Homo sapiens: one gene and its partners. The protein of the gene in region 2 interacts with the protein of the main gene of each other region in a pairwise test. Each region holds a gene or a part of one and is shown on either strand. Other genes may lie near its edges. The genes, in order: AKAP14, ROPN1L and SPA17.

Region 1 (10,452 bases), on a different chromosome or scaffold from region 2:
CGGGAGGCTGAGGCAGGAGAATCGCTTGAATCTGGGAGGCGGAGGTTGTGGTGAGCCCAGATCACGCCATTGCACTCCAGCCTGGGCAATGAGAGTGAGACTCCATCTCAAAAAAAAAAAAAGTTGGACTGGCATGGTGGCCAGCACCTGTAATCCCAGCTACTCGTGAGGCTGAGGCAGGAGAATTGCTTGAACCCGGGAGGCAGAGGTTGCAGTGAGCCGAGATTGTGTCGCTGCACTCCAGCCTGGTGACAGAGCAAGGCTGTCTCAAAAAATAAAAAATAAGTATGTTGCAAGCAATCCTTCCATTGAGTGGAAGGGCTACATGAAAGTGGGTATCTCTCTCCAAATGGAGCTATTTTTCTATAAATAACAGCTCCCAATTTGGGGGTGTTTAATGTGCTATGTTTCATTTAACTGTCATCACAGCCCTATGAAAGAGTGCGCTGGGCACCTTCCATTTGCCTTTCCAAATCCACTGTCCTTGCATCTCCTCCTGCTTCCTGCCCTGGAAAACTAACCTGACTGCACCCATAAATGGTGCCCTCTGGCTTCTAGGGGGTTCCACACAATAAGGAGATCAGGAAGTCAAAATGTATGTCCCTGGTGGTTTTCTCCCTGCGAGTTGGCTGATGGCTGGCTGCATGAAGTCCCCAGCGTCTTTCAGGGTGGCGCTCTCCCAGCTTCCCAGTGTGGTAAGGGTAAGCATTCTCTCCCCTCAACGTTTTAGGCCCACTGTTACTAGCCCCGGGGAGCTGCACCTTCCTCTGTTGCCCTGCAATCTGGCCACACCTTTGTAAATATTCCCTTACTTAACCCTTCTACAGCTATCCTCATTTTAATATGCCAACAGTTTCCTACAGGAGCCCTGAGTCACAGACAGAGGGCCTGTTGCTGCCATGTGAAAATGAGGAAACTGAGCTGTACACCCACAGTGTCTGGCTTCACAGCCCATGCTCTCAACTGTGCTGCTCTTCTCCCTCCAAGATTGAGAAAGAGCAGTAGGGCCCTATTCTCACATTTTCTTTCTTCCTTTTTTTTTTTTTTTTTTTGAGACAGAGTCTTGTTCTGTCACCCAGGCTGGAGGGCAGTGGCACGATCTCCGCTCACTGCAACCTCCGCCTCCTGGGTTCAAGCAATTCTGCTGCCTCAGCCTCCCGAGTAGCTGGGATTACAGGCACCTGCCACCACGCCCAGCTAATTTTTGTATTTTTAGTAGAGACGGGGTTTCACCATCTTGGCCAGGCTGGTCTTGAACTCCTGACCTCCTGATCCACCCACCTCAGTCTCCCAAAGTGCTGGGATTACAGGTGTGAGCCATCGCGCCTGGCCTTATTCTCACATTTTCATCTAGAGTCCAGTGACCCACTCTCTCTCTGGGAGCCTCTTTCACAAAAGGCAACTCTTTTTTTTTTTTTTCAAGACGGAGTTTTCACTCTTATTGCCCAGGCCGGAGTGCAATGGCGAAATCTCGGCTCACTGCAACCTCTGCCTCCTGGGTTCAAGTGATTCTCCTGCCTCAGCCTCCCAAGTAGCTGGGATTACAGGTGTCCGCCACCATGCCCGGCTAGTTTTTGTTATTTTTAGTAGAGATGGGGTTTCACCATGTTGGCCAGGCTGGTCTTGAACTCCTGACCTCAGGTGATACACCTGCCTTGGTGTAATCTCCAAAGTGCTGGGATTACAGGTGTGAGCCACCACGCCCGGACAAAGGGCAACTCTCTGTTTCCTTTCTTGACATCATCATTGATCCCAGGGGGTAGTAGATACTGCAAAAGGCAACCTGGCTCCAACGGCCATCAGTTCAAGAACCACTGGGACAGCCTTTGAACATCCCTGAAATAATGTTGGCTATTGTTCATTTTAGCTTTTTGTTTTCCTTTTTTTCCTCTTGAGATAGAGTCTTGCTCTGTTACCTGGGCTGGAGTACAGTGGCGCAATCACAGCTAGCTGCAGCCTCAACTTCCTGGGCTCAAGTGATCCTCCCACCTCAGCCTCCTGAGTAGTTGGGCCTAAAGGCCTATACCACCACAGCTGGCTATTATTTTTTTCTTTTGATACAGAGTCTCACTCTGTCACCCAGGCTGGAGTGCGGTGGCGCAATCTCGGCTCACTGCAACGTCCGCCTCCTGGGTTCAAGCAATTCTCCTGCCTCAGCCTCCTGAGTAGCTGGGATTACAGGTGTGTAAATACAAAATACAAAAGTATTGTAAATACAAAAATATGCCCAGCTAATTTTTGTATTTTTAATAGAGACAGGGTTTTACCATGTTGGCCAGGCTGGTCTTCAACCCCTGACCTCGGGTGATCTGCCCACCTCGGCCTCCCAAAATGCTGGGATTACAGGCATGAGCCACCGTGTCCTGCCTACACCAGGCTATTTATTTTATAGGTCTCAGTATGTTGCCCAGACTGATGTTGGCATTTTTAAGCTCAGTTTGCCTCTGCCCCAGTTCCTTGTTGCTGCAGCTGGAGGTAGACAGGATCATCTGCCAGAGCACACAGAGCATTTCCAGGTTGCCCACTCCAGAGCAGCCAGAGGCTAAAGGGTGGTCAGTGAGGAGCCTAAAGGTCCTTAACACTAGAGAACTGGCTCTCCCTAGCCCTTACTTAGGCCATGCCAATTTGGCCAGAGCAACCTGCTATAAACTCTGTAGTTAAAGACAACTGTACAAAGGTTTTTGGGTAAATTGGTAATTTCAGTAGACTTTGGTGAGGTAGCCATATATCAACTTGATCCTTTAGAAAATTGTCCATTTGGGCCGGGCGCAGTGGCTCACACCTATAATCCCAGCACTTTGGGAGGCCAAGGCGGGCGGATCACGAGGTCAGGAGATCGAGACCATCCTGGCTAACACAGTGAAACCCCGTCTCTACTAAAAATACAAAAAATTAGCCAGCCGTGGTGGCGGGTGCCTGTAGTCCCAGCTACTTGGGGGTCTGAGGCAGGAGAATGGCATGAATCCGGGAGGCAGAGTTTGCAGTGAGCCAAGATCTCACCACTTCACTCCAGCCTGGGCAACAGAGTGCAACTCCACCTCAAAAAAGAAAAGAAAGAAAGAGAGAAAGAAGGAAAGAAGAAAAGAAAGAAAGAAAATTGTCCATTTGGGGCCGGGCGCGGTGGCTCACACCTGTAATCCCAGCACTTTGGAAGGCCAATGTGGGAGGATTACCTGAGGTCAGGAGTTCGAAACCAGCCTGGCCAACATGGCAAAATCCCGTCTCTACTAAAAATACAAAAATTAGCCAGGCATGGTGGTGCATGCCTGTCGTCCCAGCTACTCGGGAGGCTGAGGCAGGAGAATCACTTGAAACCAGAGGCGGAGGTTGCAGTGAGCCTTGATCGCGCTGCTGCACTCCAGCCTAGGCGACAGAGCGAGACTCTGTCTCAAAAAAAAAAAAAAAGAAAAAAAGAAAAGAAAAGAAAATTGCCCATTTGGTAACTTGGACATTCAGTAACTTTGCTTTCAGCAAATTTCCTATTGATAAATCGATGAGAAGTCAAATCTGTGACCTCCAACACGAAGCACATGGGGTGTGTGCTTTATGCATGGAAGGACCTCCTTAAGACTTTCCCTGGGGAGCCTGTGCTCCAACAGGAGAGGGAAGATGGGGAGCAGTGCCCAGGAAGAAGCTCAATTTTTACCCTCACACGTCTGTGGGCCCACACCATTCTTAAGCCTCCCTCCCACTGGCATCTCCTAGTTATTTTTCTTCCCTTCCCTCCCCTCCTCTCCCCTCCCCTCCGCTCCCCTCCCCTCCCCCTCCCTCTCCCTTGTCCTCCCCTCCCCTCCCCTCCCCTCTCCTCCCCTCCCCTTCTCAGAGGCCAGATAGGCAGGGTGGGTAGGAAGAGATGGGGGGAATGGTAACGTTTGGGGTCTGGGTGATGAATAGGGAGAACCACTGCAAGTCCTTTCTGTGGACTCCCCCACCCCGGAGAATCCCCAGTACCGGAGTGAGCAGATCTTCTTTGCTTGGAACAGGAGCAGTGGTAGGTGGCTGGGGATGTCTCAGGATTCTCTCAGTAGCTTCTCTCAGATTGCCAGATGGAATGTTTGCAAGTGCTGCCAAGGAAACAACAATTTCAACCAATGGGAAGCATAGCCTACATGTTTCTGACTGCTTATGTTAATAACAGAGGGTAAGATGGGAGGGGGTGAGGGAAGGAGGGGAGAGCCAATCACAGCAACTGTCTGACCGCAATAATAGGACCAAACTGTAGTAGCTATACCTAGCTTCTCTTCAGCCGAAGATGAGCTTACAGGGCCATGCCAGGAAGAACAGTGGTGATAAGCCTCACAGCTGGTATGTATTGGGCATCCCTATGATATGCCAGTCACTGTGTTAAGCCTTCAGTGTCTGAAGTCATTTACTCCTCACAATAGCATTATGAGGTATTAGTATTTGCATATTGCAGTTGAACAGACTGAGGTACAGAAAGTACTGTCCCAAACTCACACCCAAAGCTGACTTCTTTGGCTGAGCTTTTACTTTTTCATTTCCAAATTCTGAGGTTAGGACTTCCCATGTGTACTTCATTGCTTTGCAAACCAAAAAGTATCTGAAACAGGTCTCAATTTACCAGTTTATTTTGCCAAGGTTAAGGATGTGTCTGGGAGACAGGTCTGTGCCTTTCTCCAAAGATGACTTTGAGGGCTTCAGTATTTATTTATTTATTTAAAGACAGGGTCTCACTGTCACCCAGGCTGAAATGCAGTGGCACAGTCATGGCTCACCCCAGCCTCCACTGCCTGGGCTCAAGTGATTCTCCCACCTCAGCCTCCCAGGTAGCTGGGACTATAGGTGTGCCACCACCACACCTGGCCAATTTTTAAATTATTTGTAGAGACAAGGTCTCGCTCTGTTGCCCAGGCTGGTCTCGAACTCCTGAGCTCAAGCTATCCTCCTGCCCCAGCCTCCCAAAGTGCTGGGATTACAGCCATGAGCCACCCCACCTGGCCAGGCTTCAGGTTTTAGTTTGTTTGTTTGAGATGGAGTTTCACTCTTGTTGCCCAGGCTGGAGTGCAATGGCACGATCTTGGCTCACTGCCACCTCTGCCTCCCGGGTTCAAGCGATTCTGCTGCCTCAGCCTCCCAAGTAGCTGGGATTACAGGCTCCTGCCACCACACCCAGCTAGTGTTTGTATTTTTAATAGAGACGGGATTTCACCATGTTGGTCAGGCTGGTCTCGAACTCTTGACCTTAGGCGATCCATGCACCTCGGCCTCTGATGGTGCTGGGATTACAGGCCTGAGCCATCACGCCCGGCCTAGGCTTCAGTATTTAAAGGAGAAATGCAAGGGCAGGTGCAGTGGCTCACGCTTGTAATCCCAGCACTTTGGGAGACCAAGGCAGGCAGATCACCTGAGATCAGGAGTTGGAGACCAGCCTGGCCAATATGGTGAAACCCTGTCTCTACCAAAAATACAAAAATTAGCTGGGCATGGTGGGGGGCACCTGTAATCCCAGCTACTTGGGAGGCTGAGGCAGGAGAATCGCTTGAACCCGGGAAGTAGAGGTTGCAGTGAGCCAAGATTGCACCACTGCACTCCAACCTGGGCAACAAGAGCTAGACTCCGTCTCAAATAATAACAATAATAATAATAATAAATAATAATAATAAAGGGGAAATGCGAGCTTGAGGGAAGAGAGGGAAGGTATGGTCACATGATTGAATCCACATGTTGCAAGAGAAAAAGAGCAGGTAGAGGAAGAATCAATTATGTATCCGTCTCCTGCTCAGTAAATCAGCACTTTACATAAGATAAGGTAAACATAGAGTAGCTACAGGTGGAGATATTTAACCTGTTATTTGTAGCTGTCTGCTTAGGAACAAAAGGAAAGGCAGCTTCTTGCATGACTCAGCTTTCAGTTTAATTTTTTTTCCTTTTGGCAGAGTGAATTGGGGTCCCAAGTTTTTATTTTCCTTTTACAGCTTTCAAAGATGTCTTTTATGAATCAAAGATGAAAGAGATATAGTGCTTATCAGCTTACACTCAGGAACAATTTAACATTTTTCTTTCTCAGTTCCCTTGTCTATAAAATGGGGTTAATAACAATGCCTACAGAATAGGGATTTTATGGGGATCAAACCAGGCAATTCATGTGAAGACCAAGAACAATGCCTGGTACATCATAATCTCTCTCTATAATGATTAGATAGCCTTTCTTTCTCTCTCTCTCTCTCTCTCTTTTTTTTTTTTTTTTTTTTTTTTTTTTTTTTTTTTGAGACAGAGTTTTGCTCTTGTTGCCCAGGCTGGAGTGCAGTGGCACTATCTCGGCTCACCGCAACCTCCGCCTCCCAGGTTCAAGCGATTCTCCTGCCTCAGCCTCCTGAGTAGCTGGGATTACAGGCACCTGCCACCACGCCCAAATAATTTTTGGTCTCAAACTCCTGACCTCAGGTGATCCGCCCACCTTGGCCTCCCAAACTGCTGGGATTACAGGTGTGAGCCACTGTGCCCAGCCTTTCTTTTTCTTTCTTTCTTTTTTTTTTTTTTTGAGACAGGATCTCAAAATGTTTCCCAGCCTGGAGTGCAATGGTGTGATCAAGGCTCACTGCAGCCTCAACCTCCCAGGCTCAAGTGATCCTCCCAACTCAACCTCCTGGGTAGCTGGGCCCACGGGCATGTGCCACTACACCCAGTTTGTTGTTTGTTTGTTTGTTTTGTTGAGACAAGGTCTCTATTTGTTGCCTGGGCTGGTCTTGAACTCCTAGGCTCCCACCTCCACCTCTCAAAGTGCTGGGATTACAGGCATGACCCACCATGCCCAGCGTAGATATCATTTCTATTAATAGTATTATTTATAGTAGTGGTATTGGCCAGGCATGGTAGCTCACGCCTGTAATCCCAGCACTTTGGGAGGCTGAGGTGGGTGGATCACCTGAGGTCAGGGGTTCAGGTCCAGCCTGGCCAACACAGTGAAACCCCGTCTCTACTAAAAAGTAGCTGGGCATGGTGGCAGGCGCCTGTAATCCCAGCTACTTGGGAGGCAGAGGCAGGAGAATCACCTGAACCGGAGATGTGGAGGTTGCAGTGAACCGAGATCTCGCCACTGCACTCCAGCCTGGGCGAAAAGAGCGAAACTCCGGCTCAAAGAAAAAAAAAAGACAGTGGATTTCAAACCCAACAAAGGAAGAAAACTGCAATGTTAAGTGTCTTTATCCAGGAAGAAATGCTGAGCTCACTGCCTGGAAGACATCACATGTTTTGAGGTCCCACACCCAGAGATCATGCTGTGGAGGTGGAGTGGTGAGGCAGGGGAATGGAGGGTGGGAAGGGAGGAGTTTTGGAGACAGTGTGGTTTAGTAGAAGAAACACAGACTCTGGGCCGGGCACAGTGGCTCACGCCTGTAATCCCAGCACTTTGGGAGGCTGAGGCGGGTGGATCACCTGAGGTCAGGAGTTCGAGGCCAACCTGGCCAACGTGGTGAAAACCCATTTCTTCTAAAAATACAAAAATTAGCCAGGCATGGTGGTGCTGGCCTGTAATCGCAGCTACTTGGGAGGCTGAGGCAGGAGAATCGCTTGAACCTGGGAAGCAGAGGTTGCAGTGAGCCAAGATTGTGCTATTGTACTCCAGCCCAGGCAACAAGAGCGAAACTCTGTCACAAAGGAAAAAAAAGAAACAACACAGACTCTGAATGCAGATACAGTACAGGGTTTCAAATCCGAGCTCTGCCACATACTGGCGTTGTAACTGTGACTTCAGGCAGGTTGTTTTGTAGTAGGATGAGTCGCAGACAAAACTCCTCAGACACCGGATTAAAGAAGGAAGAGGTTTTTTATTTGTCTGGGAGCGTCGGCAGACTCACGTCTTAAGAGCCGAGCTCCCCGAAAAAGAAATTCCTAGCCCTTTTAAGGCCTTACAACTCTAAGGAGTCTACGTGAAAGAGTCATAATAGATCAAGTAAGCGTGAGGAACGTGACTGGGGGCTACATACATCAGGTAACAGAACAAAAGGTTTTACAGTGCTTTCTCATACAATGTCTGGAATTCACAGATAACCCCTGACCAAAACTACTGGTGTTATTATTTTAACCACCACCCAGGTGCTGGCGCCAGGATCGTCTAGCTATTTATCTTACTTCTGTTTCTTTCCAACTTTTTGCTTTCTCCCTTTTCTCCTGTCTCATAAACTAGGGCAAAGGGGAGGTGGGGGAGAAGCTAAGAAGGACAACAGGAGAAGCAGTGGTCTCATTCCATAGTTTTACCTCTCTGAGTCTCATGTGCACAATGGGGATCTTAATAGGCTTTTTATAGGGTTGGTAAAAAGATGAATTTAGGTGATTCAAACAGAGACCTCAAAACAAGGACAGATACATTGTACATGCTCAATAAACATTAGTTAACGTATCATGATGATGGTAAGACTGACTGGGCCTGGAATTAGTGGGTTCTTGGTCTGACTTCAAGAATGAAGCCGCGGACCCTCTTGGTGAGTGTTACAGCTTTTAAGGTGGCACGTCTGGAGTTTGTTCCTTCCGATGTTCGGATGTGTTCGGAGTTTCTTCCATCTGGTGGGTTCGTGGTCTCGCTGGCTCAGGAGTGAAGCTGCAGACCTTCGCAGTTAGCGTTACAGCTTTTAAGGCGGCTAGTCTGGAGTTGTTCATTCCTCCCGGTGGACTCGTGGTCCTGCTAAGCTTCAAGAGTGAAGCTACAGACCTTCACAGTGAGTGTTACAGCTCATAAAGGCAGTGTGGATCCAAAGAGTGGCCGGTAGCAGGATTTATTGCAAAGACCAAAAGAACAACACCTCCACATTGTGGAAGAGAACCTCAGCAGGTTGCTGCTGCTGCTAGCTCCCGCAGCCTGCTTTTATTCTCTTATCTGGCCCCACCCACATCCTGCTAATTGGTAGGGCCGAGTGGTCTGTTTTGATAGGGCGCTGATTGGTGCGTTTACAATCCCTGAGCTAGACATAAAGGTTCTCCAAGTCCCCACCAGATTAGCTAGATACAGAGTGTCCACACAAAGGTTCTCCAAGTCCCCACCAGAGTAGCTAGATACAGAGTGTCGATTGGTGCATTCACAAACCCTGAGCTAGACACAGGGTGCTGATTGGTGTGTTTACAAACCTTGAGCTAGATACAGAGCGCCGATTGGTGTATTTACAATCCCTGAGCTAGACATAAAGGTTCTCCACCTCCCCACCAGACACAGGAGCCCAGCTGGCTTCACCCAGTGGATCCCACACCAGGGCTGCAGGTGGAGCTGCCTGCCAGTCCTGCGCGTGCGCCCGCACTCCTCAGCCCTTGGGTGGTTGATCGGACTGAGCGCCGTGGAGCAGGGGGCGGCGCTCGTCGGAGAGGCTCGGGCCGCACAGGAGCCCACGGAGAGGGTGGGAGGCTCAGGCATGGCGAGTTGCAGGTCGTGAGCCCTGCCCCGCGGGAAGGCAGCTAAGGCCAAGTGAGAAATCCAGCGCAGCGCCGGTGGGCCGGCATTGCTGGGGGACCCAGTACACTCTCCGCAGCCGCTGGCCCGGGTGCTAAACCCCTCATTGCCCGGGGCCGGCAGGGCCGGCCGGCTGCTCCGAGTGCGGGGCCCGCCAAGCCCACGCCCACCCGGAACTCCAGCTGGCCCGCAAGCGCTGCGCGCAGCCCCGGTTCCCGCTGGCGCCTCTCCCTCCACACCTCCCTGGAGCCGGCTCCTGCCTTGGCCAGCCCAGAAAGGGGCTCCCACAGTGCAGTGGTGGGCTGAAGGCCTCCTCAAGTGCCGCCGAAGTGGGAGCCCAGGCAGAGGAGGCGCGGAGAGCGAGCGAGGGCTGTGAGGACTGCCAGCACGCTGTCACCTCTCAATGACCAGCACAGACTCCAAAAGCAGAGGAACCGGGAAGAGCCCACCACTCTGCTGAGCTGGGAGAATTAGCCCAGTACTCCAGGGACCAGTGTGTCCTGAGCTCTCATGTGGTAGGGTCAGTGCCCGGAAGCCAAGCCTGAAAGAGGATTTGTATGGGCCGTGCATGGTCGCTAATGCCTCTAATCCCAGCACTTTGGGAGGCCGAGGCGGGCGGATTACCTGAGGTCAGGAGTTCCAGACCAGCCTGGCCAACTTGGCGAAACCCCGTCTCTACTGAAAATACAAAAATTAGCCGGGCATGGTGGCGGGCACCTGTAATCCCAGCTACTCAGGAGGCGGAGACAGGAGAATCGCTTTAACCCAGGAGGCAAAGGTTGCAGTGAGCCGGATCGCGCCATTGCACTCCAGCCTTGGCGGCAAGAGCAAAACTCCATCTCAATAAATAAATAAGAGGATTTGTGTGGATGTTGTTGTTGTTGAGCACATAAGCTCCGGAGCTGTGATTGACGATGGTGACTGCCCTCGGTTCTGCTCACCGGTCTGATTCCCAGAAAGCCCATCACACCAACTGTCTTTAACCCTCTGGTGCCACAACAGGCCAGGAACCACAGCCCTGCCCTCCTCCTGGGTTCAGGGTGGGGGAGTTGTGC
Region 2 (10,049 bases):
GTGGCCATCCAGATAGTCCAGGGCAGTTTTCCCACCCGAGATCCTTATCAGTCCACAAAATCCCTGTTACCATGTAAAGTAACATTCCCAGGTTCCTGGAACATGGACCTGGATACCTTTGGGGCTGTTATTTTACCCACCAACTGAGCTACTTGTCCATCCAGTGCTTGCCTTCTGAGAAATGCTTTTATCAATGGTTTCTGAAAGACTCTTTCAAAGTTCTTGCTAAAGAAATATAGCCTCTGGTTTTAACCATTATTCAAGCTTAAATAAAAGGATTTATAAGAGTTTGTGCTGTACAAAAAATTCCAAGATTTAGCAACATCTTCTTGGAACATTAAACTATATTTAGTAATACCTTAGAGATAGTTATGTTAAGCTTCACTTTGTTTATTTATTTATTTATTTTTGAGACGGAGTTTCACTCTTGTTGCCCAGGCTGGAGTGCAATGGCGAGATCTCGGCTCACGGCAACCTCTGCCTCCCGGGTTCAAGCGATTCTCCTGCCTCAGCCTCCCAAGTAACTGGGATTACAGGCACTTGCCACCACACCCGGCTAATTTTTGTATTTTTAGTAGAGATGGGGTTTCACCATGTTGGCCAGGCTAGTCTCGAACTCCTGACCTCAGGTGATCTATCCACTTGGGCCTCCCAAAGTGCTGGGATTACCAGTGTAAGCCACCGCACCTGGCCTAAACTTCACTTTAAGAGGCTTAATCAGGCTGGGCATGGTGGCTCACACCTGTAATCCCAGAGTTTGGGAGGCCAAGGCTGATGAATCACCTGAGGTCAGGAGTTCGAGACCAACCTGACCAACATGGTGAAACCCCATCTCTACTAAAAATACAAAAATTAGCTTGGTGTGGTGGCACGCATCTGTAGTCCCAGTTACATGGGAGGCTGAGGCAGGAGAATTGTTTGAAACCGGGAAGCAGAGGTTGCAGTGAGCCAAGATCGTGCCACTGCACTCCAGCCTGGATGATAGAGCAAGACTCCATCATAAAAATAAATAAATAAATAAGAGACTTAATCAGGAACTTTCCGAATGTACCATGCTACTAATTTCTCTCAAGAGCCATTTATTTATTTATTTTTTAGATAGAGTCTTTTTCTGTGGCCCAGGCTGGAGTGCACTGGTGCTATCTAGGCTCACGGCAACCTCTGCCTCCTGGTTCAAGCAATTCTGCCTTAGCTTCCCAAGTAGCTGGGATTACAGGTGCGTGCCACCACGCCCAGCTAATTTTTGTATTTTTAGTAGAGACGGGGGTTTCACCATGTTGGCCACGCTGGTCTGGAACTCCTGACCTCAAGTAATCTGCCCTCCTGGCCTCCCAAAGTGGTGGGATTATAGGCTTGAGCCACCGCGCCTGACCAAGAACAATTTGTGAGTTTAGGAGAAAACCCAGGTATTATTCATTCGGCAGTATATATGTAATTGTAGGTTCAAATATGTTTCAGCTGTCACAGGACAGAATCTGTTAGGGAGAGCTATTCAAAAGTAACTTGAGTAAGGCGGGACTTGGTAAGTGCAAAAATGAAGGGTCACGAAAGTTAAGCAAAGTAGTGGCTTGGTCCTTGAGAGATTTTGTAGGCAGAGAGATTGGGGCTTGGGTGGGGTGGAGAGGATTCCAGGAAGAGGAAGCAGCACAGGAAGAAGGGGGTGGAGACAGGAAAAAGAAAAACCATCAAAACCAAAACAGGAAACCAGGATACCCACGGACATAACTGCTATAGAACAAGCAAGTAGGCTGAGCACGGTGGCTCACACCTGTAATCCCTACATTTTGGGAGGACGAGGCGGACAGGTTACTTGAGCTCAGGAGCTCGAGACCAGCCTGCACAACGTGGCAAGACCTTGTCTGTACTAAAAATAAAATTAGCCGGCCATGGTGATGCATGTCTGTAATCCCAGCTATTCAGGATGCTGAGGCAGAAGGATCACTTGAGCCCAGGAGTTGGAGGCTTCAGTGAGCCATGTTCACAACACTCTACTCCAGCCTGGGTGACAGAGCAAGAGCCTGTCTAAAAAAGAAAAAACAAACAAACAAAAAAGATGAAGCAAGTAGGCATTCCTCTTTCCTCAGGTTAGGGTTCTTTTCAAAGGTGCTTTTCAGGTGGGCAAATATCAAAGATGAGCCAGCCTCCCCCTAAGCCTGTGGACTCCACTGTGAGGGGAGTCGGCTGTTCCTTATGACACCATTGTGCAGTTGTGCCTCACACAGGACAATGAACATAAGAATCAGTCAAGTAATAGAGGCTGCTTTGGTTGGCGTGTGCCTCAAGGAACTGGCAGAGGCTAACATTAGTTGGTCTCACCTCAAAAGCAGGCATTTCCAGCCTCGGCCCTACTGACAGTTGGGGAGGGCACAGGAGGAAGGGGCATCTTGTGCATGATGGGACTTAGCAGCCTCCTGGCCTGCACCCACTGGATGCCTGGAGTACCATCCACCCTCTGTTGTGACAATCAAAAATGTCTCCAGGCCGGGTGCGGTGGCTCACGCCTGTAATCCTAGCATTTTGGGAGGCTGAGGCGGGTTGATTGTCTGAGCTCAGGAGTTTGAGACCACCCTGGGGGCAACATGGTGAAACCCCGTCTCTAATAAAATATAAAAAATCAGCTGGGCTTGGTGATGCACATGTGTAATCCCAGCTACTCAGGAGGCTGAGGCCGGAGAATAGCTTGAACCTGGGAGGTGGAGGTTGCAATGAGCTGAGATGGCGCTACTGCACTCCAGCCTAGGCCACAGAACGAGACTCTATCTCAAAAAAAAAAAAGCGTCTCCAGAAATTGCCAAATGCCTTTTGGCTGGGGAGGAGGGTGGCGGGTGGGGGAAAGAGGAGGAGCATTATCCCCCACTGAGAACTCTGCCTCCAGAGGCTGTATCTAGCTCGGGATTCCTTGCCTGAGTTATGAGGAGTTACCCCCATGAAATAGGTGAAAACCTTGATTAGTAGGAATGTGGCAAAACGAGGCACCTATTCTTCACCCACACCCTTTAGGTCTTTAGGTTCACATTTGTCTAACTCACTGCTGCCTTCAAATCATTAACAAAGCCACAAAATGGAGCTGAAGTTGTCTTACAAAGCAAGGAAACAAAGTCAAATTTGAGGGGTGTAAAGAGAGAGAAAGGATGAGATATGAAGTTTATTTTAGTCTATCAGATATCGACTTATCCATATTTATCTGTAGCAATGTTTCTAACTACCCATGGCTTTAAAATTGTTATCTGTGGCCCTGGTGGATGCTTTGATGTTCATTTGCCTGGATATGCTGTCTCTTTTCATCATGCTAAAGTCATTAGGGCCCCAAATGATGTGGCTTCAGCATCGCCACCTCTGGCAAAGATACCAAGGGGCGTGAGTTTCTCAGAAGGTCTTGCCTGGCACCCCTCCCACCACGAGCCAGAGGCTGGGTGTGGGTTCCCTCTTGACTTATTGCCCCAACAGTTTCCCACTCTTGCCCCCAACATAAGCAGCAATATCAGTGTCCCAGAAAGGAACAATTAAGGGGAACAATACCAGGCAGGAAAAGTGGGGGTGGGGGGATGGGAGCCAGGCCAGCACCTGCCATTCCCAGTGTGGAAGTAGGTGACCTGTGTGTTCCTGGGCTGCCTCAGGGTTGAATATGCAGAGACGCTTAAAGTCAAGCACCTCAAAAAGCAGCAAGACCAAACCCACCTGTCAAAAGTGGGAAGACGGCCAGGCACAGTGGCTCACGCCTATAATCCCAGCACTTTGGGAGGCCAAGCTGGGAGGATCACTTGAGGCCAGGAGTTCCAGACCAGCATGGGCAATGGAACAAGACCACATCTCTGTAAGAAATAATTAAAAAGATTAGCCAGGTGTGGTGGTGTGTGCCTGTAGTCCCAGCTACTCAGGAGGCTGAGGCGGGAGGATCCCTTGAGCTTGGGAGGTTGAGGCTACAGTGAGCCATGATTATGCCACTGCACTCCAGCCTGGGTGACAGAGTGAGACCCTGTCTCAAAAAATTTAGGAAAAAAAAAGAAAGAATAATACATGGAACTCCAGCTGATTGTGAAGTGGCAGGGAGGAGGGGAAGAATCACACATGTTGAAGGAGCTTCTGCGAGTGCCAGCCACTGCGCCAAGCCCTTCTCACACAATGCTCCCCAACCCTCCAACAGGGAGTCTCATTATCCCCTTTGCCAACAGAGAAACTAAGGCAGGCAGAGAAGGTTAAGTCAGAGAACCAAGTGGAGGAACCAGGACATAAGCCCGGGATGTTGGTCTTCAGAGCTGTCCTTCCTAATCACCGTTGTTTTGGGGGGTTATTTAAGAAATTGGATCGCATAGCTGTTTTTTGTGTATTGATGAGCTTTCAGAGATGTCTGTTATTTATTAGCTATTTTTCAGCTCTGTCGAGAGGAGATCCACTTCCTGTAAAGGACAGAATGGAAATGCCCACGGCAACCCAGAAAACAGACACAGGCCTGACTCAAGGACTCCTGAAAGTTTTGCACAAGCAGGTATGGGGGGGCGTAGTCTCTGGCCTCAGGCAGCTGGCCTGTGCTTTCCTTACCGTTCACTGTGCATTGATGACAGAGCGGGGCACACCCCAGCAATGTATTTCAAACCTCCTGAGGTCCCTGAAATCCTGCTTTCCCTGCCACGCATCGTCAAGGTTGATTCAAGGAAGAAATATGTTGTGTCTGGGAGGTCTTTTTCTAGCTTCAACAGCCCCAAGTCACTATCCAGGGGTAGAGTTTAGAAAAGTGAAATATAATTTCTTTTAAATACAAAATTTACATGACACTAGATTCTGCTGGGCAAAACATACAAAATTTCAGAACCTGGGGGGTTTCCAGTCCGTTCTCCAGGTGTGTGTTTGTGAAAGCTGTGCGCAGGCCTGAGTAAGCCTCTGCCTTCTCTGTCTGGAAGGCGGGGCTGGCCTTTGGCCCCCAAGGTGGGCAGCAGCCTCTGGTGTCCAGTGCTGTGGAGAGCCTGGGCCCCCTTCCTGCCTTGCGCTTCTTTGCCCCACACGCCATCCTGTTTTTACAGACGTGAGTTACTAGAAAGTGGGTCACGGAGCAAGGCTAGGCCTTCCTCATGACTCGGTTCTTTTGCTAAAAGAGACACCAGTGGCATAACCTTGATTTTCAAACTGACTTATCCCCATTCTACACTGTGAAGTACTGTGCTTCTGCGCAGGATACAGTGAATTCTGAAACTAGGACTACCTTAAGGGAAGCAAAGAACTCTTGAATGGTGTAGCTTGCGAAAAGACATGCTGAAATTGCTCAAAGCCTTTTCATCCAGGATACTGCTAGCAGATTGCAGAAGTTTTCAGTTTTGATAGATTGTTTAAAATAGTAGAAGGAAGGCCGGGCATGGTGGCTCATGCCTTTAATCCCAGTACTTTGGGAGGCTGAGGCGGGCAGATCACTTGAGGTCAGGAGTTCAAGACCAGCCTGGCCAACAAGGTGAAACTTTGTCTCCAATAAAAATACAAAACTTAACAGGGCGTGGTGGTGCGCACCTGTAATCCCAGCTACTTGGGAGGCTGAGGCGGAAGAATTACTTAACCCTGGGAGGTGGAGGTTGCAGTGAGCCGAAATCATGCCGCTGCACTCCAGCCTGGGCAACAGAATGAGACTGTCCAAAAATTAACAAATAAATATATAATAGAAGAAATACATTTATTTTCAGTTTTAAGATCTCTCCTATCTAACTGTTAATGTGATTAGGGGCTGGATTTTTAAAATGTTTTTTACTGAGCTTTATTTTTTATTGTGAAGCATTTCAGACAGATAGTGGAGTATCGTATACTCAATATCAGTATGCCTGTTTCATTAAGTCATAACATGATGCCGTATTCGCTTCACCGTCCTTTTTTCATTTAATAAATAAAAGGTTGCCGCTCGCTGCCTTCCCTGCCTTCCCTCCCCAGGGCTGACAGAACCCCCTGTCATGCATTTGGAGTTCATCTGTCCCCTGCATGGGGCGGGTTACTTGGTGTGTGTTGAATATTCACAGCATTCATTGTTTCCCAGGTTTTAAAACATACATAAATTGTCATGCTGTGTTTTCCAAACAGTGTCACCACAAGCGGTATGTGGAATTAACAGATCTTGAGCAGAAGTGGAAGAACTTGTGCCTGCCGAAGGAAAAATTCAAAGCGCTCTTACAACTGGATCCTTGTGAAAACAAAATCAAGTGGATAAACTTTTTAGCGCTTGGATGCAGCATGCTTGGTGGGGTATGTACCTATAAACAGCATATTAATAATTCTGTGTCATCATGGTCCCAGCTTAAAAATAATTTAGGTTTCAGTAACTAAAGGAAACACTTTAGTAACTTTGTCTTAGAAAAGCATTTCCCCCTGCTCCAGGCCTATTATATTAATATTTTCAGGTGTACAGTTATTTTAATTTACAGAAATTATTTATGAATGCCTCAATTTAAAAGTTAATAGTAGATGAAAGATATGGATACTATTAAAATATATTTAGGTTTTAGAAGAAAATGCATCAATGACTTTTTAAAACTACAAATCATTTTGTAAACTGATAACTGTTTTGCTCATCTGTGGAAAGAGGCATACAATTATTTTCTACTTTAGTAGAAATCTATTATTATTATTTATTTATTCATTTTTTTTGAGATGGAGTTTTGCTGTTGTTGCCCAGGCTGGAGTACAATGGCGCAATCTCGGCTCACCGCAACCTCCGCCTCCCAGGTTCAAGCGATTCCCTGTCTCAGCCTCCCGAGTTGCTGATAGCTGGGATTACAGGCATGTGCCACCATGCCTGGCTAATTTTGTATTTTTAGTAGAGACGGGGTTTCTCCATGTTGGTCAGGCTGGTCTCGAACTCCTGACCTCAGGTGATCTGCCCACCTTGGCCTCCCAAAGTGTTGGGATTACAGGCGTGAGCCACCGCGCCGGCCTTAGAAATCTATTATTAATAACTAATAGATACAGTGAGATTTTGCTGATGTTTGAGTATAAGCCAAGCAACTTAGGAATAAGACATGATCCTCCAGGTGACGAGGCGAGCCTGGGAGGTCGGGGCGAGAAGGGAGAGGTTGGAGCTGGGATGATGTTGGCAGGGCTTCCTTTGCAAACCCAGAGTCAGTCTTCTCAGCTAAAGTCTTGCTGTGAGACATGGTGGTTGGGTGAAGGAAGAGTAACCAGGCATCTGCCATGTGAAGCTTATGAAGAAAGGAGGCAGAGAAAGGAGAACCAGCTCCCTTTACTACATAGATGAACAATTTGATTTTCCCCCCTCCCTTCAGTCTGTGGCCCCAGTGTGTATAACTGGTCCTTGCTTCACAGCCCTCACTCAGCTTTGCTCCATGCACAGAGCTCTTTCATTCCATTTTCATTAAAACAAATTACTTGAAATGGGTGGTGGTAAACACCCGCAAGGCTACCCAATGTGGCCACTAATGCACCAACAGTCACTTCCAACCACCTGTGGCCTCCTCCCATGTCCTGTCCCCCTGCCTGGTGGCCTGAAGCAATGACATTTCTGAAGTTCCTGCTTCTCGCTTCCTGACCTCTGAAACACATGCTTCTATGTGTCCCGCAAGAGGTACACTGTGGAATTTTAGTTGGTTTTGACTTGATGAAAAGACATTTGTGTTGTCAGTAATTTTCTGAAATTTTCATCCTAAATTATATGACTAGATGTATTCATCTGTACATCACAGGCCACGTTGTTCATTCCCTTCCTTCGCCATGTCACATCTGAGTGTGGCGCAGTTCACCAGCTCTGCAGATGGCCCCAGTGGGAAGCTCCGTGCCCTCAGGGAGTCGGGTGTGGTGTGGCTGTAGAATGAGCAAGAGTTTTGTTGTGTAACTGCTCAAAGGCAATGGAGGTGCTTCCTGTCAGCCCCGGGCTAATTGTGCCAAGGCCTGGATGTTGGCAGGCATGGTACCCTCCAGTAGCAAGGACAGGTGCAGATGGCACCAGGGGAGTGTCTCAGGGGTATTATCAAGATAGACAAAGGCAAATACTTTTAATTATTGGAGACATTTTTATGTCACTTTGTTAATCTGGAACTCTGTGAAATCTATCTATCTATCTATCTATCTGTCTATCTATCTAATCTATCTATCTATATCTGTATCTAGCTATATGTTTTTTGAGATGGAGTCTCACTGTGTCACCCAGGTTGGAGTGCAATGGTGTGATCTTGACTCACTGCAACCTCCCAGGTTCAAGTGATTCTCCTGCCTCAGCCTCCCGAGTAGCTGGGATTACAGGCATGCACCACCATGCTCAGCTAATTCTTGTACTTTTAGTAGAGATGGGGTTTCACCATGTTGGCCTGGCTGGTCTTGAACTCCTGACCTCAGGTGATCTACCAGCCTCAGGTTCTGGGATTATAGATTACAGGTGTAAGCCACTGCACCCAGCCTAAAGTATATGTGTGTGTGTGTGTGTGTGTGTGTGTCTGTGTGTGTGTGTGTGTGTGTGTGTATTTTTTTTTTTTTGAGACAGAGTCTTGCTCTGTCACCCAGGCTGTAGTGCAGTGGTGCGATCTGGGCTCACTGCCACCTCCGCCTCCCAGGTTCAAGTGATTTCCATGCCTCAGCCTCCCAAGTAGCTGGGATTACAGGCATGGACCTCCACGCCTGGCTAATTTTTTGTATTTTTAGTAGAGACAGCGTTTCACCATGTTGGCCTGGCTGATCTTGTACTCCTGACCTCAGGTGATCTGCCCGCCTCGGCCTCCCAAAATGCTGGGATTACAGGTGTGAGCCACTGCACCCGGCCCTGAAATCGATATGTTAACAATATAAAATTGTATGCAATGTTTGAATTAATGTTGGTGGTTTCTGCCTCTAAGCTTAGTTGTAAAATTTTGATTTTAAAATGATGAGAAAGTAGAATAATTCATGTTTTTGGATCCATCTTTATAGTTTTCACCTTCCTAATTGTGAAAATTAAGCACTAGATTTAAAACACAATTGAATCTGATTTGAAAAATAAGGCCTCTTGTCCATGTAGAGTGTGTGACACTAGATGGAGACATTGTGTTAAGGATAGAGCTTGGCCGTCTAAGCTGACTCCTGGGGAAGAGACATCACAAACAGCACACATTCTTTTGGGTTCTTCCTATCATAGAGAATAAATTGACACCAGGAATCATGCTGTGCATCACTGCGGGTTCCTGCCTGTCTCCTGACTTGAGCCACCTTTGCCAGCAGGACTCCAGATTTGCCCTTGACTCCTTCCATAGGTGCTGGAGGCCTCTCCTGGTTGTAGAAAGCCACAGCCACCCTCTGCTCTGGTCCAGTGCGGCTGTAGACTCAGGGTCAGGTTCAAGTGTGGAAGCTGACCTCTCCTCCCTCAGAGGAGCGTGTGCTCGTCTGGGGTCCATGTCTGCTGCCAGGGATGCCTGCTCTGCCCTGGCTCCCGCGGCCCACAGAGTGCTGAGCACGAGTTCAAACACCTGTCTCGGGGTGCGCTGGGTAGACAGGAGGTGCTCGGACCCTCCAGGCCTTGGTGTGGACAGTTGTGTTGTTGACCTTGTTGGCCCTGGGTGGCTTGGAGGTGTGCTAAGAACACAAAGCTGTGAATTCAAGGAGGGGTTTCTTCATGTCGTTCAGCGTCATAAGCGTTCATTTTTATGCTTTAAAAAAATACCTTCAAAAAGGAGGAAATGAAGTGCGATGAGAATAATTTGTAGTGGATTACCACCTGCAGAAGTTTATTTCACATAGGATGCTGTGTAATTGGTGGCTAGCCGCTGCCTGCGTGAGCGGGATAGATGTCGTTCCTGCTCCCTGCATCTATGGCGGGGGCGTGGCTTGTGGCAGGTGTACTCTCTGTGCTGTTTACATTTATTTATCTTAGAAATCACTCTAGTCAAATTCATCGAGTTGAAGATCTCTAAAAAGACTGGAAACCTCTGCTTCAATTTCTGAATCATACATACCATTCATTCCACAAATGTTTACTGTGCATTATTTTGTGCCAGGCCCTGTTCTAAGTGCTGCAGGTTCTGGAGTGAACAAAACGGGCAAACATCACCAGACTCTTGGAGCTGATGTTCTGTTATATCCTTGAAGCCCTGAACACT
Region 3 (10,049 bases), on a different chromosome or scaffold from region 2:
AAAATCCCTGAGACAGGAGCATGCCTGGAATGTCTGAGGAAGAGCTCTGAGGCCAGAGTGGCTGGAGCCAAGTGAACAAGTGATATGGGGGTCAGAGGTAACAGGAGGAAAGATCTCCACAGGGCTTTGTGACCATAAGGAAGACTTTTACTCTGAGTGAAATGAGGAGCCGTTGGGGGTTTTAAGCAGAGGAGTGACATGATGTGACTTAAATTATAATAGGATACTCTGGCTGATGTGTTGAAAGGGGGAAAGGGTGTGTGATGGTTCATTTTTTTGTGACAACGTGACTGGTTAAGGGATGCTCAGATAGCTGATAAAATGTTTCTGGAAGAGATTAGTATTTGAATTGGTAGACTAAGTAAAGAAGGTCTGCCCTCACCAGTGTGGGCAGATTGACATTGAGGACTTGGGTAGAACAAAAAGGCAGAGGAAGGGCAAATTATCTTGGGAAGGGTGCACCACACCTTTTGGTACATGGAGTTGACTATAGTCAAATTCATAGGAAGTCCATAAAGTTTAAAAGAGAACTTTATTGGCAAAAGTACCAGTACCAACTAAAAGGCAGAGGAAGGGCAAATTCTCTTTTGGAGCTGGGACATCCATTTTTCTCTGTCCTTGGACACCAGAGGTGCTGGTTCTTGGGCCTTGGGACTTCAGGACTCACACCAGCAGCCCCCCTGGTTCTCAGGGCTTTTGCCTTGGACTGAGAGCTACACCATTGGCTTCCATGGTTCTCAGGCCTTCAGACTCAGACTGAATCACACCACTGGCTTCTCTGGTTCTCTGCTTGCACACAGCATATTGTGGGCTCTCTCAACCTCCATAAGTGCATGAGCCAATTCCCATAATAAATTCCTAGTCATATATCTATATATATTCTATTGGCTCTGTTTCTCTGGAGACCCTGAGTAACACAAGGTGGAAGCTGGGAGAAGAAGGGATAGTGAATGCTCGGCAGTTATGATATCTATATATTGAAATATTGGTTCCAATTTTTCACTCTTAACAGAATTGGAAACAGAGAGATAAAGGGAGGCAAATCTTGAAAGAAATTGCGAGTGCACCACACCTTTTGGCACGTGGAGTTGACTATAGTCAAATTCATAGGAAGTCCACAAAGTTTAAAAAAGAACTTTATTGACAAAAGTACCGGTACCAGCTAAAATAGACATTCTACAAGATATAAACAGATTATTGGCCTCTAATTTTCTACAGGCAGAAAGCAGGTTGAAGAACCCATTTATCCACCAAAAAGGGCATATTCTCTAATGTCCTTTGCAAGTGACTAAGGAAGATGAGGGAAAAAGAATGATTCCCTAGAGTGTAGAACAAAGAGCTGTGGAGGATAGACTGGAAAGTCATTTTTAAGGAGCAGAAACAGTGCCTAATCATGAAACACAATTCCCTCCAATGGAGGAACCTGACAACCATTGTCCAATGAGTTTTCCTAATTGTTATGGACCAGTGGCTGTGATCTGCTTCCATTTCTCCCCTTTGTGAATAAGAGTATTTTTTTGTGGTTATTATTGTCTCTATTCCATCATTTGTTGTATGTTTGGTATGTGATAAAAAGATGCTTGCTCTTTTAATTCATAGGTCTCTATATCAAGAAGGGCTATATCTGGACCTGATGTAGATCATGAGATCCTGGATTTCAAAGATGTGATGGAACTTTTAGGGGTTTTGGGATAGGAGTGGGTCAATTTTTGCATGTGGTAAAGACATAATTATAATCAAGAAAGCAGATCGTGGTAGATTAAATTACTGGTCGCAATTCTTCACTACCCTGTAGTAGTATTATGCACACATGAAGCCTTTGCTATTGGTGAACAGTGTATTTCCTCATCCTCCTCACTTTGGGCTTCATTAGATGACTTTCTTTTGTATATGGGATGTCAGTGGAAGTGATATGAGCAAAAGCTTGAAATATTCTTGCATGCTGGGTTTTCCTGCTTGTCTTCTGTGACCAGCATGAGAAGAGCTTGTCCTGGATAACGTCTTTCAGCAGGGGCTCAGAAAAGGACACGTGAAGCAGAGGCACTGTGCTGCAGCTGACCCTTGGGCCCACAGCCTGAAGCAGACCTTCCTGTCAGCCCACAAACCCACAGCTTAGAGCTGACCTGAACCTAACCTTGAGATTGTAGTCCAGCCTAGCTTAGCTACATTACCACTGACCTACAGACCCAGGAGAAAATATAATTGTCTTAAACCACTAACTTTGGAATGGGTTGTGCAGTAGTAGTGAGATAATCACTGGCCAATATAGGTTATTGCAATAATTCACAAGGCTATCATGGGAACTAGGACCAAGGCGGTAACAATGGAAGTGGTTAGAAGTAGGCAGATTCTGAGTATTATTTTATAGGTACAGCCCACAGGTTTTGCTGATAGATTGTATATGGGGTGTGAAAGAAAGTGACGCATTAAAGATGAATCCAAGGTTTTTGGCCTGAGCAAATGGAAGAATGGAGCAGCCATTTTTGAATGGAAAAACTTGGGTGTGGGGGAAGTTTCAGATTTGGGGGCAATATCAGGATTCATTTTTTATATGTTACTTTTGAGATGCCTATAGACATCCAAATGGGGATGTTATGTAGGCAGTTGAATATAGAAGTTCGCAGGCAGAGGAGAGAAAGGTCTGGGAGTGATCATTAAGAAGATTGGATTTTAAAGCTATGAAACTGCAGGAAATCAAGTGAGTGTAGAAATGGGGTCGAAAGACTGAGCCTAAGGGCACTTAGCATTTAGTGGTTGGGGAGTTGAAGAGTTACCAGTGAAGGGAATTGAGAAGGAACAGCCAGAGAGATAAGAGGAAAACCAGATAAGTTCTAATAAAGTGTCATTCATATGTGTTGTTCTCATAATATCACATCCATTGCTCACCTTTTCCTTTTCCTCCTTCACTACCAATATCACTACCATGAGATCTGTGTGTGTGTGTGTGTGTGTATGGAATGCATAGTGCTAGTCACTTTATGTGTATAACAGGAGAATTACTGAAAAAGCTAACTCATCTTTTTTTTTTTTCCTGCTATATACTCACTAGGGAAAAAATCCCTTTTTTCCTCTTCTGATCTCTCCAGGTCAGGGAATCTAAGTCTTTGCATAAATTCTGGGTCCCCCCTTGACAATCCGCTAAGCAGGATGGCTCTGTCTGAGAGGGGAAGGTGTTAGAAGCTGGTGCTTTCAGTGGAATGGGAGGGACGAACAGCTGGAATCCTGGAGGAGAACTGATTTCTTTTCCTCTGTAAGCCTGGAGGAGAGGGGTTAAGGAGGAGAGGAAGGGGGATATTAGAGACTTGTGTTTAGCTAGCATGAAACTCTCTACAGTGGCAGCAAGATTTTGGAAGGAGAAAGGCTGCCTGTATGAGTGGACATTAGAGAATGAAAGCCACAACCTTGAAAGGGTTGGTGTGAATCAACTGTGTTTGAGTGGCGATCACTTGGGGGAACCTCTGTTGCAGAGCCTGATAAAGGCTCAGTGCCAGGGAAGGGCAGTGAGGCACCTGAAATAAAACTGCTTTGCAGAAAGAGCATGTCTAAGCCTAGGACAAGGATCAAAGTGTTTGTAGGAGAGTATTTGTTGTGACAACATAGACCTGGTTTTAGAATCTCCTCAGGACTGAGCCATCCTGGCTTGTTTTTAAGCTTTGGGGGAACACTGGCTTTGTGACTATAAACCAAGAGAGATGTAATCCTGGAACTAAATCATGGGCCATCCACTATGGTGCAGGCAGGAATTGGAACCAGCCAGAGAATCACCTCAGTCTGCTGGACTATGCTACAACATTATGGTAGAAGGCAACAGCATTAACTAAATGGTAAGACTCCACTTTCTACCTTTTGTATTGGGAAGAGAACTGCACCCTTTGGTCTAAGACATGAACCCTCAGTTTCTTGGACAATCAAGGGTGGAGAGGCCTCAAAAAGGAGAGACGGAACTTTCTAAAACTAAGGCACTAGGGATTTGAATGAATCATTGAAAACATAAAAGAGATAAAGCCTCTGAGTTTGTTAAACAGGCATTACCATTGTATATTTAAAAACTTGGGAAGTTTTAACTGAAGAAGGCAGCATGATATGATAGCTTTTGCTTTTTACAATATGATGTTATTAGTCTTGTTCTGTGTGGTTCTGGAGAGCAAAACAATAAAGCATTGTAAGTTGTATGAGTGTAAGAACAAGTATTCACTACTAATTCCCAGCACATGAATAGTACTCAATACATTTTCAATAAATGATTGAATACATGTATGATAAATGAAAACCAGTGGGTTAAACTTACAAGGAGGCAGAGGCTTTTTTTTGTTTTGTTTTGTTTTTGAGACAGAGTCTTGCTCTGTCGCCCAGGCTGGAGTGCAGTGGTGCGATCTCGGCTTACTGCAGCCTCCACTTCCCAGGTTCAAGCGATTCTCCTGCCTCAGCCTCCCGAGTAGCTGGGATTACAGGTGTGCGCACCACGCCTGGCCAATTTTTGTACTTTTAGTAGACATGGGGTTTCACCATGTTGGCCAGGCTGAAGGAGGCAGATTTTTGTCCCAGCTTATCTTTCTAAAAATTCCAAAATTAAATAGACTATCCTTAAAAAGCAGTGAAATTCTTTACCACTAGGAGTGAAACAGGAGCTAAAGAACATTTTTGGGGGATGTGATAGAGAGGATTTATTCATTTGATAATAGTTAGAACACATAACCTCTGAGATCTCTGTAATCTCAGATACTTTAGTTCTATAATTCTAAATCCAAGGGTCTCTATAGATAGGCTTGAGACAAGTGTAAACAAACTCATGATCTCAGAGAAATCTTCAAGTGGCATGTTTCAATGGTATGCTTATTAAACAAATGCTCATGACAGATTTTCACAACAGTAACGAATGTTATTTCACAACATCAAATCTTCCTTCCTCAGGAAGAAATGACATTAATAAGAAGGTTGATGGATTTGGATTATTTTTCATGTTTCCTGGAGGTAAAACCAGTGTCCTCACTTGTTTTCCTCTTTTTCCTCATTTTGAAGACTATTTGTTTTCATTTTCTTTGCCTCCTCTCTGGCTATGTGTCCCCGGAAGGCAGCTTGGATTTTGACAGCAGCAACCTCTTCTTTTTCCTTATCTTCCTCAGAAGAGTCCTTCATCGAAAGGAGAAAAAGTAAGAGACTCTTTAAATATGGCGTAGTTTTGATGCCACAAAAATAAATGGATGAAATTTAATCATTTTAGGGATGCAACTATCTGAGAGCTGTTGCTTCCTGAGGGAATTTCATATATTGTCACATTGTATATGTACCAAATGGCAAATGCCAAAATAGCAGGCATTTTGTTTTGTCACTCTTTTAATATGTCTCTGCAACAAAAGATCATTGCCAACTTTCTTTCCCCTAAAATAGTGCCTATTTAAGTTTCCTGAGCAACAACATTTTTTGGGGGGTTGGGGGGACAAGAAAGAATCCTTGAGGCATGGTAAAAATGTTAAGAAGAAAGAACTGTAAATGTTATGTTTCAAAATAATCACAATTACATATAATGAATTAGAATAACTTCTCAATTTCTCAATGATTAGTTAATCATCGTCATACATTTAAAGTGAGGTGCCAAAGAGAAATCCATTTAGTCCAATAATGTCAGTTTTAACAGGGTTGGTTGAACTTTGGCACATACCCTCTTTTAAAAAAATTGGGTATAAATTTTTAGCTATAAATTTACAGACAGTAAAATGCATGAATCTTCAGCGTACAATTGAATATACAGCTTTTAATATATCTTTTAAAATTATAGAAATGACATGTATACACTTTAAAAACTCAAATGTCACTGGCAGTGATAGTTTTCTCCACCTATCCAAATCCTGCTCTTGGGAGATACCCATTATTATGAGTTGAGTATCTACATCCTTCCAAAATTTCTCTATATGCAAATATATTCATATGGGTATATATATATATATATGTCTTTTTATTTTAAAAATGAGATCATCCTAATCACAGAGTTCTGCAGCTACTTTTTCCATGTAACGATATATCTTGGTTCTCTTTTTCTGTATTATTAGTCAGTGTATAACTCTCCCCATTCTTTTTTTATGACATCATTATATTATACTGATGTACCTTGATTTAATATTTACTCAATCTCATATTAATGGACCTTTGGGTTGCTCAAGCCTCCTATCCCCCTATTATAAATAATGAGACAAATCTAGCTCTTAAACTTTTAAATGCAAACAGAATGGTATAAAATTCTTCGAGATGACATCCTAATATAGCAAACAAATACACTCAAGTTGGAAATCAATGAGATCCCTACTCAAACTCATGAAAACCTGTGTAAAAGCACCTATGAAAGATGTAAGGAAATAAAACTCCCTTCTTCCTTGACTTCCTGTTACATCTTAATGTTAATCTTCCTGTTATATCCTAATGTAATGTTATTTCAGTACAACCCAATGGCAATTGTGGAACAACCTGTAAATCTTATAGGGAAAAGCAATGCATCACTAGGTAGGAAGTAGGGTATTCCTTGAGGGGATATCCATTCTGGCTGCCAGTTCTTGGGCAACTACCTGGGACCTGAGACATAAAAAGGAACTCAGAAGTTTGAACTTCGACATTTTAGAGAGTGAGTTCTTCTTTCTTATGAGGCCTAGTCCACAAGAGTCTGGAGTATGAAGAATATAGACAATGATGTACTGGTAAGTGTTTTAACAACTGGCTCTCCAGAAGAAACAAAGCCCTGATTTGCAGTGTTTGCCATGGTCTTAATATTCTCATTGTGGCTGACTTCAAGTTATTAAAGTGACATTACTGAACAATGGGCCTTTGAGGGTGGACTTCGCTATGTCTTTTTTTTTCTTTTTTTGAGAAGGAGTCTTGTACTGTCGCCCAGGCTGGAGTGCAGTGGCGTGATCTTGGCTCACTGCAACCTCCGCCTCCCGGGTTCACACCATTCTCTTGCCTCAGCCTCCCGAGTAGCTGGAACTACAGGCGCCCGCCACCATGCCCGGCTAATTTTTTGTATTTTTAGTAGAGATGGGGTTTCACCGTGTTAGCCAGGATGGTCTCAATCTCCTGACCTCGTGATCTGCCTGCCTTGGCCTCCCAAAGTGCTGGGATTACAGACGTGAGCCACCACGCCCGGCCTCCGCTATGTCTTGACTGCTTGGATGTAGTACATCAGGCACGAAGGCATTTTTGTAGAGCGTTATGCATGGAAGATGAATAAGCCACATTGTTGTAAAGCCATTATTTTGGCTGTATGTAATTCCCTGTGATTTTCCTTTTGTTATCTCTGAAATTTGCCATTGTGTAGTGGTGACAGCACCAATTAGTGAAAAATTCCCAAAGTGGAAGATGAATCTGAAGGATCATGACTGGGTCTGTGAGTTCTGTCTGCCCTTCCCCATAGGGAGATTTTTCCATCCATTAACAATCTTGAAAAATAAGATTTCATTTTTAAAGGAAAAATGAATTTTTGATCAAGAGAGGCATGGCTGAAAATTATCTACCAGTTAGTTTATCACTGATGTTAATTATCTGGAAAGTAAAGTCATAATTTTGACAATAAAGATAACAGACATTCATATTTGGAGTTCAGTTTTAAATTGGGCAATATCATTCTTTGTAGGAATCCAATAGTACATGAAAAATATTACATACTAAGATGGTGACTGATGTCTCTTCCTCCTTCCCAGATATCTGAGACTCTTCTTGTTTAGGATCACTTTTCTCAGGTGGTTCTTGCTCCTGGACAGATAGGAGAGAGCCACAATTAGCAATGTTTCCAAAATGGCAAAGTCTTGTATCAAACTGCTTAGAAGTAATGAAACATTACTTTAAATTACTGAGAAATAGGGGGAATTAAATACTACGTATTTATCTTTTAATAAGGAAAATACATTGAAACAAGAAGAAATAATAAAAGCTCTTAAGGAAATACGTGTAAACAAATATTAAAGACCAAATAATTGGCAAAAATGTTTGATCTGTTGCTTTTGGAATGTGTGTACCACTGTTTTATGTTAAAAATAAACCACTGTCCTATACTAAAAGTTGATAAGATGATGTAATGAATCCTGAACAAAGTATAAAAAAGAGGATCCAATAGTTTCTAAAATAGGAATAAAATAAATGGCATTGTGTTCCATAATGTGACATCAAATTGACTTTTTAGTGACGTTTATGGATTAAAACTAGTCAGAGAAGTAAGTTTTGCTGTGGAGTTTTGCTTTATGATTTAAATATAAAAGGAGAAACCACCTCTGCCTATTTTGACATGGCTATTTAAGTCTTCCTTCATTGCTAATTCACACCTATGGAAAGAGCTTCTTTAACCCATAAAACCAAAATTTAAGAATATATAAGTTAATCAAATAAAGCCTTTAGAATTAAAAAAAGAAACACCCCAAAATTGCTATGTGATGCAAGGATTTAAAATCTTTCAACATTATTCCTTTGACTTCGATAAACATGAATACAAATAAAACATGAGCACAGAGAATCTAGTAAAATGGAAATACACAGAACACACCCATACCTGCAGGCACAAATGGATGGAACTTCACTTTCAAACTTGTGTAATAAGTGACAGCTCCTTCTTCAAGAAATTCCCCAAATCTACTGGAGAACTTGAACTTTGTTAATTCTTTTCAATTCTAATATCTGCTGTGCTTTGTGGCTAATAGTACTACCTCAGTTGTCTAGAGCAGTGTTCTCAAATTTTAATGTACCTACGAATTATTCTGGTGATCTCTTAAAAATGTAACTTCTGATTTGTAGACCTGGAATGGGGCCCAATACTTTGAATTTCTTCTTTTTCTTTTATATTTGTACAAATTTATGGAGTACATGTACAATTTTGTTACATGTGTGGATTGGTGATCAAGTCAGGGCTTTTAGGGTGTCCATCACCCAAATACTGCACATTTTAGCCTTTAACCAATTTCTCATTATTCTCCTTTCTCCCACCTCTCCTCACTCTTCTGAGTCTCCATTATCTATCATTCCACGTCTATGTCCATTTAAACACATTTTTTCAGCACCCACTTATGAATGAAAACAAGCACTACATGTCTTTCTGTGCCTGGCTTGTTTCACTTAAGATAATGGCCTCCTGTTTCATCCATGTTGCTGGAAAAGACACGACTTCATTCTGTATTATGGCTGAATTGTATTCCATTGTGTATACATCCCACATTTTCCTTATTCATTCATCCATTGGACAGATACTTAGGTTGATTCAATATCTTTGCTATTGTGAATGGTGCTGCAAACAACATAAAAATGAATGTATCTTTTGATGTATTGATTTATTTTCCCTTGGGTAGATACCTAGTAGAGAGATTGCTGGACTGAATGGTCATTCTATTTTTAGTTATTTGCGAAATCTCCATACTGCTTTCCTTAGAGGCTATACTAATTTACATTCCTGACAACAGTGTATAAGAGTTCTCCTTTCTCTGAATCCTTGCCAGTATCTGTTATTATTTTGTCTTTTTCATAGTAGCCATTCTGAGTGGGGTAAAATAATATCTTACTGTAGTTTTGATTTGTACTTCTCTGATGATTAGTGATATTGAGCATTTTTTAATATACCTGTTGGACATCTGTATGTCTTCTTCTAAAAAATCTCTATTCATGTCCTTTTCCAAGTTCTTTTTTCTTTTTCTTTTTCTTTTTTTTTTTGAGACAGGGTCTCACTCTGTTGCCCAGGCTGGAGTGCACTACAGCCTTGACCTGTGGGCTCAAGTGATCCTCTCACCTTAGCCTCCCAAGTAGCTGGGGACTACAGGTGCACACCACCACGTCTGGCTAATTTTTTGAAGAGATGGGTTTCACCATGTTGCGCATGCTAATGTCAAGCTCCTGGGCTCAAGCAATCTTCCTGCCTTGCCTCCCAAAGTGCTGGGATTACAGGCATGAACCACCACGCCCAGCCCTTTGCCCACTTTTTAATCAGATTACTTATTTTTTGTTGTTGTTGAATTGTTGGACTCCCTTGTGTATTTTGGATATTAGTCCCTTGTTGGATGAATAGTTTGCAAGTAATTTCTCCCATT

What was found.
Region 1: the proteins of ROPN1L (region 2) and AKAP14 interact in binary tests that used the Homo sapiens proteins (3 or more experiments, as listed by UniProt).
Region 3: the proteins of ROPN1L (region 2) and SPA17 interact in binary tests that used the Homo sapiens proteins (3 or more experiments, as listed by UniProt).

The regions. Positions count from the first base shown.
Region 1 is NC_000023.11:119,889,767-119,900,218, reverse strand, and holds the start of AKAP14 (A-kinase anchor protein 14), read right to left. Parts: upstream 4,327-10,452; 5' UTR 4,232-4,326; intron 4,065-4,231; 5' UTR 3,952-4,064; intron 1-3,951. UniProt on the Homo sapiens protein: Binds to type II regulatory subunits of protein kinase A and anchors/targets them.
Region 2 is NC_000005.10:10,443,898-10,453,946, forward strand, and holds part of ROPN1L (ropporin-1-like protein), read left to right. Parts: intron 1-4,362; coding exon 4,363-4,486; intron 4,487-6,054; coding exon 6,055-6,216; intron 6,217-10,049. UniProt on the Homo sapiens protein: Functions as part of axonemal radial spoke complexes that play an important part in the motility of sperm and cilia. Important for male fertility.
Region 3 is NC_000011.10:124,689,384-124,699,432, reverse strand, and holds the end of SPA17 (sperm surface protein Sp17), read right to left. Parts: intron 7,738-10,049; coding exon 7,651-7,737; intron 5,131-7,650; coding exon 4,987-5,130; 3' UTR 1,915-4,986; downstream 1-1,914. UniProt on the Homo sapiens protein: Sperm surface zona pellucida binding protein. Helps to bind spermatozoa to the zona pellucida with high affinity. Might function in binding zona pellucida and carbohydrates.